Linked DNA regions of Homo sapiens: all the other regions are linked to region 2. Evidence: fine-mapped expression QTL. A gene starts in region 2. Each other region holds a variant in brackets. All regions are shown on one strand. Distances are between the middles of the regions. Region 1 overlaps TDO2 (tryptophan 2,3-dioxygenase). Region 2 holds the start of CTSO (cathepsin O). Region 3 has its middle 6.7 kb from the start of TDO2.

What was found. PIP is the estimated chance that this variant, and not a neighbour inherited with it, causes the effect.
Region 1: its variant is the best candidate, but not a certain one, in a credible set for the expression of CTSO in prefrontal cortex (CommonMind, PIP 0.67).
Region 3: its variant is the best candidate, but not a certain one, in a credible set for the expression of CTSO in whole blood (TOPMed, PIP 0.87).

The regions. Positions count from the first base shown.
Region 1 is chr4:155,920,059-155,925,289 of GRCh38, forward strand. TDO2 (tryptophan 2,3-dioxygenase) reads left to right here. Exons shown (of 12, transcript NM_005651.4): 12 at 1-348. It overlaps CTSO (cathepsin O), which reads right to left. Exons shown (of 8, transcript NM_001334.3): 8 at 4,060-5,231. Among named protein-coding and RNA genes, the nearest start is that of TDO2, 19 kb to the left of the region's middle. The variant G/A (reference allele first, on the strand shown) is at 2,502.
Region 2 is chr4:155,951,473-155,956,703 of GRCh38, forward strand. CTSO (cathepsin O) reads right to left here and starts at 2,394. Exons shown (of 8, transcript NM_001334.3): 1 at 2,241-2,394. The coding sequence starts at 2,375. RefSeq lists an enhancer at 3,505-3,799.
Region 3 is chr4:155,894,391-155,899,621 of GRCh38, forward strand. No RefSeq gene overlaps it. Among named protein-coding and RNA genes, the nearest start is that of TDO2, 6.7 kb to the right of the region's middle. The variant C/G (reference allele first, on the strand shown) is at 2,603.

The DNA of each region.
Region 1 (5,231 bases), 31 kb before region 2:
AAATACAGTTTGAATATATGTATGCATATATTGTTCAGCACCACGATGCTCTGATTTAATTCTAGAAACAATTTGATTACCTCTTGTTTGTGACAAGACTAAGCATTAAGATGAGAAAGAATACATTTAAATAGTAACATTGTACATAGGGTGTTTTCCTATTAAAAATTCAGTTTCCCCTGAGACTTAATGTAACCACTTAATGTAATCACTATCTCATTGTTTCATCTTTATAAACTTGTAAACTTCATCTATTTCAAATATTTTATGCAGTACATTATATTATTCTGTACAAAGGCTTTCAAACAAAATTTTTAAAATAATAAAGTATTAATCTTTCTCCCTGTATTGTTTTTGAAATATTGATTGTATTTGTTAGGAATCTTAATGACCAAAGACAGAAATCTATCTGAAGTTTGTCTAGAGGGGATATACTGAAGAATTACTAGCTTGCAGAATTCAAATGAACACTGTCCAAAAAGCCTTGAAAGAGGAGCCTGAAAACTCTGATGCCACAAGGACTGGGTCCAGTTCCTGGAGTGCTATATTCCTGGAACACTCTTCTGAGATCTTTTTTGTCTCATCTCTTCTCTGTAGGTGTTGGCTTTATTCTTTCCTGCAGTAGAACAGCTTCTGTCTCAGGCTGGGTCCCAGTTTCCAGCACCATCAGACTCACACAGGGCAAAGCTTCTCTTTCCCCCAGCTCCCATGCCTGTGGTCTGGGAGGTGGAGTGAACTCTAATGCATGCAGAACTGAGGTAAAAGCAAGGAACAGTCCCCTCAAAGAAGATGTGCTTTCCAGAAGAAAGTACACAGACTGGACAGTGACCCAGTTCATTTCTAATAAGACATTAACTAAGCTAAGAGTTTAGATCAGACATGAGTTTTAGTCTTCTTTTTCTAGCTTGGCCAGGTTATTGGGAAAACTTAAATTTTTGTTATGGGAGGAAGTACATAATATTATTTAAGAAATCTAAAATGTATGTCAACCTTGACCTAGAGTGATTATCACTAGCAAGCAGTAAGTTCTTGATGGAATTGAACTATTCTTTGGTTTCATTTGCAAGTTTTTTCTTATAAGGTCTTATAAGGATTATATCATCTAGTTTGTCTCAGAATTACATATAATTGTTTTTGTCTCCATGACTGTTGTGTGCTCATGTATGTGTGTATACACAGTATCTGATGGTGGCTAGGCTGATATAATACAGAGGCAAATGGCATGGTGGCTAAAAGGCACTAGCTTTGAAATCAACAAGCTCGAGGGCAAATTCTGGCTCTGCCATTTATTAACTATCTGGTACTATCACCAGTTGAAGCCTAGTTTCCTATCCATCTGGGGATAAAAGTACTTATTTTATAAGCTTTGCTATTTCCCAGGAGAAACATGTGTTAATAGATATTCTGTCACCAAAGTGCCTTAGAATATTGGTGTAAATGTTATTTGTCAACGTTTATCATTATTTTAATAGACTGTATTAGTCAGGATTCTCCAAAGGGACAAAACTAACAGGATCGATGTATATATGAAGGGGAGTTTATTAAAGAGTATTGACTTACAAAATTACAAGGTGAAGTCCCACAATAGGTCTGCAAGCCAGGAAGCCAGTCCAAGTCCCAACACCTCAAAAGGAGGGAAGCCAATATTGTAGCCTTCAGTCTGTGGCCGAAGGCCCCAGAGCCCATGGCAAATCACTGATATAAGTCCAAGAGTCCAAAAGTTGAAGAACTTGGAGTCTGTTATTCCAGGGCAGGAAGCCTCCAGCATGGGAGAAAGATGGAGGCCAGAAGACTCAGCAGGTCTGTTCTCTCCATGCCTCCTTTCACACTGGCAGCTGATTAGACAGGGCCCACCCAGGCTGAGGGTGGGTCTGCCTCTCCCAGTCCACTGACTCAAATGTTAATCTCCTTTGGAAACACCCTCACAAACACATCCAGGAACAATACTTTGCATCCTTCAATCCAATCAAGTTGGCACTCAATATTAACCATCACAACTTTGTCAACTTGAACCCATCCACATCTCCTGAAATCACACATAATCTTCAACTGAAGCCAATAATAAGGTCATAATTACATCTAACACAATACAGCTATCCTTTGTACAACTGGAAGTGCACCAATCCCCAATCCAAATGCTATTACCTAAAGTTAACAACACTTAAATGCTGATATGAAGTCAACAAATCTTACATCACATGATAAAGGAAAAATAAAGGAAATAAAATGAATATATTTTCTTAGTACAAGTATATATATGTGCAAACATGTTCTCAACAAAATAAAGAGGAAATACTCATGACAATTACAGTCCTCATTTCTGCAACTGGTCACATGGCTGAAGCTGCTATTGATGACTACCTTATTCCACTACCCCCATTCCTTATTCTCTTTGCCTTCAGCAAGCACCTCAGCAGGTTGTGGCTTTGTACCTGCTGGAGTGACCCAAACCTTCATTCCTGAAGTATCTGGGCCATTTGTAGTCCTGCCAGGATTGTGCC[G/A]TTGTAGTTTCCCATTGACATTAATCACAGGGCATGGCAATACTAAGAGACACCCTAAGGGTTCTCCTGTGTTCCATGCCTACTCTTCCTTACCTCCATTGTGGAGTAGTAGACTGATTTCGTCTTCATAGTCCAGGTCAATCACCCTGGCCAATACTGTAACTCCCTTCTTAGCCTGTTGCATTAGTCTGCTGTTATGCTGCTAATAAAGACATACCTGAGACTGGGTAAGTCATAAAGGAAAGAGGTTTAATGGACTCACAGTTCCACATGGTTGTGGAGGCTTCACAATCATGGTGGAAAGCAAAGGAGAAGCAAAGTCATGTCTTACATGGTGGCAGGCAAGAGTGCTTGTGCAGGGGAACTCCCATTTATAAAACCATCAGATCTTGTGAGACTTATTCACTACCATGAGAACAGTATGGGAGAAACCACCCTCATGATTCAATTATCTCCACCTGGCCCTGCCCTTGACATGTGGGGATTATTACAATTCAAGGTGAGATTTGGGTTAAGAGACAGCTAAACCATATCATAGCTAAACCATATCATAGACTATATGGTTATATTTAGTTCTTTACACCTATATTTCTTGGTGTGACTAAGCTAGAAGTTGCAAGAGTTTTATCAAAGGATATATCAGTCATTCTTCATGTAAATATCAAAATAATTTAGACTGCAAGTCCCCACCCTCCCCAGTCACACTTGCTTCTAGTGCTGATGACCCACTTTATAACTTTTAAATGGGCTAGAAAATCACTGTAAGGTGGGCTAATTTAGTATTCACTTTGAGATCTTTGTGAAACCACATCCAGAAACACGTTGATGACTTTCATTATGACTTCTAATTATTAGGTGAGGATTTTGTTGCTTTGACTTCAAGTAGTTTGTTATGGCTGGATCACAGCATAAGAGTGATCAAACTATGCAGCACAGCAGCAATCACGGTTGAAAAGGTAGAGAGGGGCTTCTTCGTGAAAACTCACTTAAAAGAGCTCACATGGTATCATAAGGCATTGGGAGCCCTTGAACGGTTGTGAACAGAGAAACTGATAACGTCTTTGAGAAATGTAAATGCAGGGGAAATACAGTAGATGGACTATAAGAACATCAATCTGAATCACCAGACTTTGGGTCTGGACTAAGGGACATAGAGAATAATGAGTAGGCTACTGAATAATGGAGATAAATGACACTAAAGAACATGCAACTAAGAAATGACAGTAGCCACAGGAGGTAGGTAATTCATTGATGGGTTACCAAGGTGCAGATGACCTGCTTAAATGTTTAGGATTTGTCTTAATTTTATTGATTGGGTGATTCCATAATGTTGATTCTGTTAACCAAAATAGAGGCTCTTAGAGGTAAAGGAAATTTTTGTTGGGGGTGGTGGGAGAAGTTAGGGAGGATGACGAATGGAGTTTCGGAAACACTGAGGTTAAAGTGCCTATGGAGAAAACCAAAAGCTGGATATATTAATTTAGAGCTGAGAAAACTGTAAATATAAAGCACATTAATACCGTGTTGACAAAATGTAAGCCATACACTTAAGAAGAGGTTCTTTTTAAACCAAAGTCAAATGTAGGTTGTTTTATTGTAAATGTCATCAAAATCCAGAACAGCAGAAACATATTAATCAGTTTGAAATTTTAGAAATCCTTTAGCACTTGAAAAAGAGTATTACAAATGCATCTATATCACATAGAAAGTCAGCGAATACAAACTAGACAAGCAGGACATAGTTCTTTTCTGGCATTCCAGGATAATAAGAATATTTATCAATTAAAAGGTCAATATCTGTCTTCCTGAAATAACTCCAAACCTGAGTCAACACACATTCTTTTCGGATTGGTTCTGACTGGCGTAAGAAGAGAAATACAGCATTTTGTTTTTTATTTTGTTTATCTAATCACAGGGAAGGATAAACAAAGGGCAAAAGTGAGAGAAAAAGTTAGATGTCCTTGAATTTTTTTTTTTAGTGGTTGCTACTGCATTTCATGTTTCATTTTTGTTAGATCATATACATTAGAAAAGAATGATACATTTTAGAGAAGAAATATGTACATACATAGTATCAGAAATAATTTTCTTGTATTGATTCATTTAATATGGTTGTGCTTATATTCAATCAGAAGGTCAACTCCTTTGCTCTAAGGTTCTTACACTGCTAACAAGAAATGGCTTTTTTCCTGTTGCAGGTCATGAGCAGCACACAGTGTCCTTTCTAGGCACATAGGATCATCGATCACTGTGTGGACGCAGGCTAATCAGAATTGCACCTGAAATCACTTGTGCAATTAGTGATGCAAGAGTGATCACAGGAATCAAGACTGGGAGCCAAGAGAAAGAACAAGAGGTGCACAAAGAAGCAGTTCGGATGGGAGACCAGGAAAGCTGAGGGGAAAACTGGGAAACAGATTCTGGAAAACTCACAGTTTGTTTGATACCCAGGGTTAAGAGATGGGACTTTGATAGGAGTGGTGCTTATGAATTAAGGGAGGAAGAAAGAGGTGAGATCCTAATGTTGGTAAAGGTACAGAGACAAAGGGAGCCAACCAAGTGGTAAGAAAATAGAAATGGAAAGTAAAAATGAGACTTAATTCTTTAGTCAGGGAAGCCAAGCCACCAGGAAAACTTGGTAAAGAGTAAGAGAAAGAGGGAGAAAATATGAGATAATATTTTGGTATTTTGATATACTAGAGAACAAAATATTATTCTATAGTATAAAAA
Region 2 (5,231 bases):
CCATAGTGGAGTCTAGTTTTCACTGAACAATACTATAATATTTTGTGGGAAAGTCATGGGCTAACCTAACTTTCATTTAACGTGCATTCCTGGGAAACTTACAAAACTATCTAAGGCTAAGATTAAAACAAATTTTAAAACCTTCACCATTCTCTAAACCCATGACCATGAAAGACATTACTAATTAATCAAGGACTTTCTTGAACCAGATCTTCAGCTGCAAACCCCTGAATCATCAATTCACCAATGAATTAACTTGATTTCAACAAGAAGTTTCACGGTTACCAAGGAGGCAAGGCCCTTTCCACCTTTCCCACTGTCCAGCTCTCTATCCCAAGTCCGAACAGCAATCTCCAGCTAACTAATCTAACTAATTCCTGATGATCTTAGATGAAAGACTTTCATCCCAAATCCATCCATCTCCCCCACTTCCCTCCTCCCGTCCATGGAAAAAATGTCTTCCATGAATCCGGTCCCTAGTGCCAAAAGATTGGGGACCACTAAGGTAGAAAATCGGTTTTAAAGCATTCTTGGATAAAGTCCAACTAAGCACCGAGAGGTGTTCAGTTTCCAGCAACTGTGCGTTGAAGCCTCAATGTTCTCTTTTTTGGGTATCCATCTCATGAAGCAAATTCTTACAGGCAGCAATTGCTTTGAAAATTTTTTCAGTATTTCTTAACCCGAGGTTTTTAAAATGTACTAAGAGTCTTCATAATTCGATCCTCCTCCACTTCCAACTTTCCATCTTTCAACCTGTTTCTTTGTATTTCTCCTGAGAAAAGTTACATTTTCTAGACATTCATCAGGGTATGGCCTCTTTACAGGACCAGTATGAGTCACTACATAAATTATACACATATATATTTATAAATTATCTAAAATCTAAATAAATGTTAAAAATATATTTATAAGTCTAGCCCTTTGAGCTTTGTCCTGAAATATTATTTTTAGGAGCCTGACAGTGTGTTTATTTATTTAGCCAATGAATACGTTACCAATAAAGGTGAAACTGACTTTTCCCCTAAGGGGTTTCGTTTACCAGGAAAACGAACGTAAGTTGAGGATAGGGGTAGAATACAGGCCAGAATTTTGTTCTTGAAAGAGTAAGAGGACTTCTGGTTTTGAAAGCTAGAACTGAACTCAAGAATAATAAAGTGGAGATAACAGTACACATCTCGGTTTGGACAAAACGTAAGAGTGGACAGAATCAGGGAAGGCTGGCCTTCCTAAACATTGGAGCTTTCCAGGAGAGTCGGGGGAAAAGAGCACAGCTATGAAATCCTGTGAGAAATTCCAACAAACACCAGGAAAAAAGATACACTTCCTTGAGCAATATTACTCAACTCAGACTTATGTTTGATTCAGAATGAAAGAATTTTCTTTTCCAATAAATTAAATCATGATAATGGCATCTTTCATGAATTTAAAAATGTGTTAAATAGTATCAGCTATCTAGAACATAGTGAGGCGAACACTAAATCGGCATCCCTTGCAGTTTCCTTGGTTTCAGGAAAATCATTATTTGTGCTCAGCTAACTGGTCCCTTCCAGAGTTTTCATGCTAGACTCAAATCTAAGTATTTATTATAAATATTATAAAATATAAATTATATTATATTTCGTATAATAATATGAAAAGGAAATTAAATGCTTCTCTTTTCTTCAACTCAGTCTCCGCCAAGGCAGGAAGAACTTTTAAAGTGGTGCGTTAGTTTAAGGAGAATCATAAACCATCAGGATTCTTTAATCTGGCTAAAGACAGGCTCTTTGTTTCTAACTTCTGATCACTAGCGCCCTCCTCGGGAAAAAAAAACACGACAGGTTTCTTCCACCAACAGGCTGCTCCCTGTTTCTGGTTCTCATAAAAGAGAAATAGAAGAGCTTTGGAAGCCAGTGGCAACGATAGAGGGGATTGCTAAAAGGGGGTGCTTCTTCCCACCAAGGACACTTTGGACGTATCTATGGATTTATTTGGGTGCGTCCCAAAAATCCATAGCGACAAATCTCTTCTGGAAAATCAAGTCTTTTGGTTAGCAAAGGCATGGGGGAGTGACACCATGGCACAAGGAGAGGGGAGAGAGAAGCTGGCTTTTGCACCCGCAGCTCAGGGCCCCAGACGCATCGCAGAGCCACGGGTGCCCACGAGCAGGGTCAGCTCTCGGGGGCCCTCTTCCGCAGCCCAGACCCGGGACAGGAAGTGAGGGAGCAGGGACAGATCCCGGGGAGGCGCGCGCTCGGTACCCGGAAGGCGGCGGCTTCACGCTCGCGGCTCCGCGGCCAGGTCGGGGTGAAGGGGGCGCGGGAGTCCGCATCGCCGCCGCCCCGGCACAGCAGCCACAGCAGCCACGGCAGCCACGGCAGCGCCCGCACGTCCATTGCGGCGCCCGGCTCCTCTGCCGCCCGCGCGGCCTGTTTTCTCTTTCGGTTCCTCGGCTCCTCCCAGCCTGGGCTCGAGGGGCGGAAGGAGCTGGGTTGAGTGCACGATGCTGAGATTGACCCTTTTTTAGGTCCCCGGTGTTCTGTGACTGAAAATCCGGTCAGCTGGAGGCTACGGACCTCCTTGCTGAGGCTAGTTTTTTTGTTTTTGTTTTTGTTTTGGAAGAGTCAGGCACTTGACCATGTGCTTTCGAGGTTTCACTTCCATCCATTAGAAAAAAAGAAGCCTGAGAGTCATTCTTTTGTGTGTGTTGAGATCAGGTCTCACTGCAGCCTCGACCTTCAGGTTCAAGTGCCTCCTGCCTCAGCCTCCGGAGTACCTGGGACTACAGGCGCGTGCCACCACCCCAGGCTATTTTTGTATTTTTAGTAGAGATAGGATCTTGCCATATTGCCCAGGCCGGTCTCGAACTCCTGGACTCTAGTGATCCACCCGCCTTGGCCTCCCAAAATGCTCACAGGTGTGAGCCACCTGGCCTGCCCTGTGAGCCACCGGAAGCTGCCTTTTTCCTTCTTGCCACAATCCCTAAGTTCAAGACCTAGTTCTGAAGTGATGTGGGCCAATACATAGAGTCATCCATTCAGCAGATGTTTATAAATACGTAACAAAATTGTACAGATGTGAAAAGCATACACAGTTTTTGGATCTATTATGGCAGTTTCAAAACTCTTGAAGCCTGTTTCTCCGTTTGCAAAGGAAGATAGAGCCAAGTACATAATTTGCAGGGTTCCGTGTAAACTGAAAATGAAGTTCCCTTGTTCATAAATTGTGAAGAATTTCAAGACGGCAACAGCAGAGCATTAACCCAAGCCATGGGCCTTCTAAGCACCCACTTCTGCACAGGTCACACACTCATGAACCTGGCTCTACCGAGCCTTTCTATTATCATCTATTCTGAACAAGGCTTCCATGTCTGTGAAATTCATATCATTACCCTTGTAGATTTTTAGAACTAACATCAGATTTATGTCTTTAGTTTTTACCTAGGTGCAGTGAGTTACAATATTCTCCAATGCAAACTTCGTAATAAAAATAAAAATAATGTTCCGAGTATTAAGAGGAAAGACACAAGAGTTTTTTATGTACGTTCATGATAAGATATATTGCTCTTGGCAAGTGTGGTGATAAAGATTTTATTTAAATCATAAGTTCACAGAACGATGTTCATGTTTACCTCAGCAGTTCTTTTGTACTTAGCCCTTTTTTGTGACTCATACAAGCACATACTTTTCTTTTTAAACTGAACTTTGCTTTCAGATCATAGTCCCTGTTTATTGACAACCTACGGAGTCAGGAAATTTAAATATAGGCAGTCATCTTTACTTTAGGATAATTGGTATTGTAAAAAAGCCCCTTGAACTAAACTCATTTCAGGAGCTCACATCAAGTATTTATTGAGTACCTGCTAAGTGTCAGGCATTCTTCTAGGTAATGAGGATATATCAAGTAAGTGGATAAGTGACTAAAGGGATGAAAATCCCCATCCCTATGGGACTGATATTTCAATTGATTTACATCAACAAATATTTTATTGAGTACTTCCTAAGTGTCAGGCATTGTTCTAGGTCATCAGGACACATCATGGATGGAAGTGCATAAGTGACTGAAGAGATGAAAAGCCCCACCCTGTTGAAGCTGGTATTTCAGTGAGGGGGAGAGACGCAATAAAATTACTACAGGTTGAGGATCCCTTATCCACAATGCCTGGGTCTGGAAGTGTTTCAGATTTCAGATTTTTTCCCCCCAGATTTTGGAATATTTGCATATACATAATGAGATCTCTTGGGGATGAGACCCAAGTCTAAACACAAAATTCATTTGTGTTTCACTTATGCTACTGACTGAAGGTAATCTTACTGACTATTTTAGGTAATTTTATGCATAAAACAAGGCTTTGAATGCATTTTGACTATGACCCACCACATGAAGTCAGGTGTGAAATTTTCTAGGTGTGGCATGATGTCAGTACTCAATAAGTTTTAGATTTTGGAGTATTTTGGGTGTTTGGATTAGAGATGCTCAACTTGTACATGTGTTAAAGGACAATAAATCCAGATAAGGAGCATCATCAGTGTGAGGGGTGGTACTGCTATTTTAAATAAGCTGTTCAATACTGTCCTCACTGATGAGGAGAGTTTTGAGCAAAGATTTGAAGGAGAAGAAAGTGAGCCACATGGATATTCAGATATCCAGGGAAAGAGAAGCTAAGACAGAAAGAACTGTCAACACAAAGGCCTTGAGATGGAAGTTTGCTTGGCACGTTCCAGAAACATAAAAGACGTCAGCATGGATGGAGTAAAGGAAAAAAAAAAGGATGGGGGAGAGTAGAATATGAGATAAGTAAGAAGCGCACAGATTGTGAAGAATTTTGGGTCAGTTAAAAGGGAGATCAGAATCATCTATTAAGTAGTAAAACAAAGTTTTTGAAAAGTGGCTTGAAAAGTGAAGGTGGCAAGTATCTGCTAATTCTTAGAATAAACACTACAAATTACATGTATATGTAGAGATGTGTTTTTTTCATCAAATTTGCAAAATAGCACATGGAACTTCCCTCAACTCTGTATTAGATATCTATTGCCATGTAAAATATAACCCTCAAACTTAGCATCTTAAAAATACGAATTTTTCTTATCTTAAACAGTTTCTGTGGACCAGGAGGGAGCAGCTTATCTGGGTGGTTCCAGCTCAGAGTGTCTCATGAGGACGCAGACAAGCTGTTGCATATGGCTGCAATCTTCTGAAGGTTTCCCAAGTTTAAAGGATTCAATTTCAAGCTCATGTGGCTGTTAGCAAGA
Region 3 (5,231 bases), 57 kb before region 2:
CAGAGCAGAACTGAAGGAGATAGAGACACAAAAAACCCTTCAAAAAATCAATGAATCCAGGAGCTGATTTTTTAAATAGATCAACAAAATTGATAGACCACTAGGAAGACTAATAAAGAAGAAAAGAGAGAAGAATCAAATAGATGCAATAAAAAATTATAAAGGGGATATCACCACCAATCCCACAGAAAAAGAAACTACCATCAGAGAATACTACAAACACCTCTATGCAAATAAACTAGAAAATCTAGAAGAAATGGATAAATTCCTTGACACATACACCCTCCCAAGACTAAACCAGGAAGAAGTTGAATCCCTGAATAGACCAATAACATGCTCTGAAATTGAGGCAATAATTAATAGCCTACTGACCAAAAAAAGTCCAGGACCAGATGGATTCACAGCCGAATTCGACCATAGGTACAAGGAGGAGCTGGTACCATTCCTTCTGAAACTATTCCAATCAATACAAAAAGAGGGAATCCTCCCTAACTCATTTTATGAGGCCAGCATCATCCTGATACCAAAGCTGGGCAGAGACACAACCAAAAAAGAGAATTTTAGACCAATATCCTTGATGAACATTGATGCAAAAATCCTCAATAAAATACTGGCAAAACGAATCCAGCAGCACATCAAAAAGCTTATCCACCATGATTAAGTGGGCTTCATCTCTGGGATGCAAGGCTGGTTCAATATACGCAAATCAATAAATGTAATCCAGCATATAAACAGAACCAAAGACAAAAACCACATGATTATCTCAACAGATGCAGAAAAAGCCTTTGACAAAATTCAACAACCCTTCATGCTAAAAACTTTCAATAAATTAGGTATTCATGGGACGTATTTCAAAATAATAAGAGCTATCTATGACAAACCCACAGCCAATGTCATACTGAATGAGCAAAAACTGGAAGCATGCCCTTTGAAAACTGGCACAAGACAGGGATGCTCTCTCTCACCACTCCTATTCAACATAGTGTTGGAAGTTCTGGCCAGGGCAATCAGGCAGGAGAAGGAAATAAAGGTTATTCACTTAGGAAAAGGGGAAGTTAAATCGTCCCTGTTTGCAGATGACATGATTGTATATTTAGAAAACCCCATTGTCTCAGCCCAAAATCTCCTTAAGCTGATAAGCAACTTCAGCAAAGTCTCAGCATACAAAATCAATGTGCAAAAAATCACAAGCACTCATCTACACCAATAACAGACAAAGAGAGAGCCAAATCTTGAGTGAACTCCCATTCACAATTGCTTCAAACAGAATAAAATACCTAGAAATCCAACTTACAAGGGATGTGAAGGACCTCTTCAAGGAGAACTACAAACAACTGCTCAGTGAAATAAAAGAGGACATAAACAAATGGAAGAATATTCCATGCTCATGGACAGGAAGACTCAATATCGTGAAAATGGCCATACTGGCCAAGGTAATTTATAGATTCAATGCCATCCCCATCAAGCTACCAATGACTTTCTTCACAGAATTGGAAAAAACTACTTCAAAGTTCATATGGAACCAAAAAAGAGCCCGCATTGCCAAGTCAATCCTAAGCCAAAAGAACAAAGCTGGAGGCATCACGCTACCTGACTTCAAACTATACTACAAGGCTACAGTAACCAAAACAGCATAGTACTGGTACCAAAACAGAGATATAGATCAATGGAACAGAACAGAGCCCTCAGAAATAATGCCACTTATCTACAACTATCTGATCTTTGACAAACCTGACAAAAACAAGAAATGGGGAAACTATTCCCTATTTCATAAATGGTGCTGGGAAAACTGGCTAGCCATATGTAGAAAGCTGAAACTGGATCCCTTCCTCACACTGTATACAAAAATTAATTCAAGATGGATCAAAGACTTAAATGTTAGACCTAAAACCATAAAAACCCTAGAAGAAAACCTAGGCAATACCATTCAGGACATAGGCATGGGCAAGGACTTCATGTCTAAAACACCAAAAGCAATGGCAACAGAAGCCAAAATTGTCAAATGGGATCTAATTAAACTAAAGAGCTTCTGCACAGCAAAAGAAACTACCATCAGAGTGAACAGACAACCTACAGAATGGGAGAAAATTTTTGCAATCTACTCATGTGTCAAAGGGCTAATACCCAGAATCTACAAAGAACTCAAACAAATTTATAAGAAAAAAACAAACAAACCCATCAAAAGTGGGCAAAGTAGATGAACAGACACTTCTCAAAAGAAGTCATTTATACAGCCAACAGACACATGAAAAAATGCTCATCATCACTGGCCATCAGAGAAATGCAAATCAAAATCACAATGAGATGCCATCTCACACCAGTTAGAATGGCGATCATTAAAAAGTCAGGAAACAACAGGTGCTGGAGAGGATGTGGAGAAATAGGAACACTTTTACACTGTTGGTGGGACTGCAAACTAGTTCAACCATTGTGGAAGACGGTGTGGCGATTCCTCAAGGATCTAGAACTAGAAATACCATTTGACCCAGCAATCCCATTACTGGGTATATACCCAAAGGATTATAAATCATGCTACTATAAAGACACATGCACACATATGTTTATTGCAGCACTATTCACAATAGCAAAGACTTGGAACCAA[C/G]TTAAATGTCCATCAATGATATACTGTATTAAGAAAATGTGGCACATATACACCATGGAATACTATGCAGCCATAAAAAATGATGAGTTCATGTCCTTTGTAGGGACATGGATGAAGCTGGAAACCATCATTCTCAACAAATGATCACAAGGACAAAAAACCAAACACTGCATGTTCTCACTCATAGGTGGTAATTGAACAATGAGACCACTTGGACACAAGAAGAGGAACATCACACACAGGAGCCTGTCATGGGGTGGGGGGAGTGGGGAGGGATAGCATTAGGAGATATACCTAATGTAAATGACGAGTTAATGGGTGCAGCACACCAACATGGCACATGTATACATATGTAACAAACCTGCATGGTGTGCACATGTACCCTAGAACTTAAAGTAAAATAATAAAAAAAAGAACAAAGTCTTGTTGAACCACCAAGGAGGAAGAAATTTTCCTTTTTGAGGATATCATGGAAAGCATCCCAGAAGAAGTCTATTTGAAATGTTTCTTTTTTTTTTTTTTTTTTGAGACGGAGTCTCGCTCTGTCGCCCAGGCCGGACTGCGGACTGCAGTGGCGCAATCTCGGCTCACTGCAAGCTCCGCTTCCCAGGTTCACGCCATTCTCCTGCCTCAGCCTCCCGAGTAGCTGGGACTACAGGCGCCCGCCACTGCGCCCGGCTAATTTTTTGTATTTTTAGTAGAGACGGGGTTTCACCTTGTTAGCCAGGATGGTCTCGATCTCCTGACCTCATGATCCACCCGCCTCGGCCTCCCAAAGTGCTGGGATTACAGGCGTGAGCCACTGCGCCCGGCCTGAAATGTTTCTTAAAGAATGAGTGAGAGTTCAAGAGGTGGAGAGGTGGAGAGGTCACTGTAAGCATGGAAAATTTAAAGATTTCAGGACTTAGTTCCTATGCTCTAGATTTATCACTAGGTGTTTGTGTGGGAAGTCATGGGAAATGAGATCTGAAAATTATACAGTCTGCTGTAAATGTGTGAACTCTTGAGTTTTCTGCTAATAAGTTTGGGTAGTATGCAGATTTTGTTGATCATTTAAAGAAATCAATGTAACATGCTAGCATCAGAATCTGCTTCCCCCTTCTATCGGGGGAACCCACCCCCAATATTTCAACGTAGGTTCTGTCTATTTTCCATAAGTGTCGGCCAGCTGAGAAATAAAGAGAGACAGTATAAAGAGAGGAATTTTACAACTGGGCAGCTGGGGGTGGCATCACATATCAGTAGGACCATGATGCCCACCTGAGGCTCAAAACCAGCAAGTTTTTATTAAAGGTTTTAAATGGGGAGGGGGTATAAGAACAGGGAGTAGGTACAAAGATCACATGCTTCAAAGGGCAAAAGGCAGAACTACTACTAAGGGTCTAACAAAGATCACATGCTTCTGAGGGAACAGGACAAAGGGCAAAAGCAGAACTACTGGTAAGGGTCCAACAAAGATCACAAGGCAAAGGGAAAAAGCAGAACTACTGATAAAGTCTATGTTCAGTGGTGCACATATTGTCTTGATAAACATCTTAAACAACAGAAAGCAGGGTTCAAGAGCACAGAACCAGTCTGACCACAAATTTACCAGGGCGGAGTTTTCCCCACTCTAGTAAGCCTGAGGGTACTGGAGACCAGGGTGTATCTCAGTCCTTATCTCAACCACATAAGACAGACATTCCCAGAACAGCTGTTTATAGATCTCCCCCCACGAATGCATTCCTTTCCCAGGGTATTAATACTAATATTAATATTCCTTGCTAGGAAAATAATTTAGTGATATCTTCCCTACTTGCATGTCCCTTTATGGGCTCTCTGCAAGAAGAAAAATGTGGCTCTTTTTGCCTGACCCCACAGGTAGTCAGACCTTATGGTTGTCTTCCCTTGTTCCCTAAAAATTGCTGTTATTCTGTTGTTTTTCAAGGTGCACTGATTTCATATTGTTCAAACACACGTTTTACAATCAATTTGTACAGTTAACACAATTATCACAGAGGTCCTGAGGTGACGTATCTCCTCAGCTTAGGAAGATAACAGGATAAAAGATTAAAGTAAAGACAGGTGTAAGAAATTATAAAAGTATTATTTGGGAACTGATAAATGTCCTTATTAAAATGAAATCTTCACAATTTATGTTCCTCTGCTGCAGCTCCAGCTGGTCCCTCCATTTGGGTTCCCTGACTTCCCGCAACACCCTTCCCTTTTAAAGAACAGATGTTTCTATTTTGCAATTTTTTCTGACTTGTGAACTACCTTTAATAGTATTTTTAGTATTTAGTATTTACTTTAATAGTAATAATATGAATTCTATAAAATTATTGCTATTTAACCATTCCAACCTACAAAAGCATCAATTTCATATGGTTCAAACTGTATATTATGAGAATAATACCTAAACTTTAAATAATTTTTTTATAATACCTAAACTTTTAAAATCATTTTAATGTTTTTTATGTAGTTGATAATAAAATATGCTACTTAGTACTTTTAAAAAATTATATAATACATTATGATTGTATTATAAAGTTTATTTAATATAATTTATACTATTAAAATAGTTGGTAACCTCTTCTTATTTACAAATAGAACACTTGCTTTTAAAAATACTATTAAATTATATAAAGAA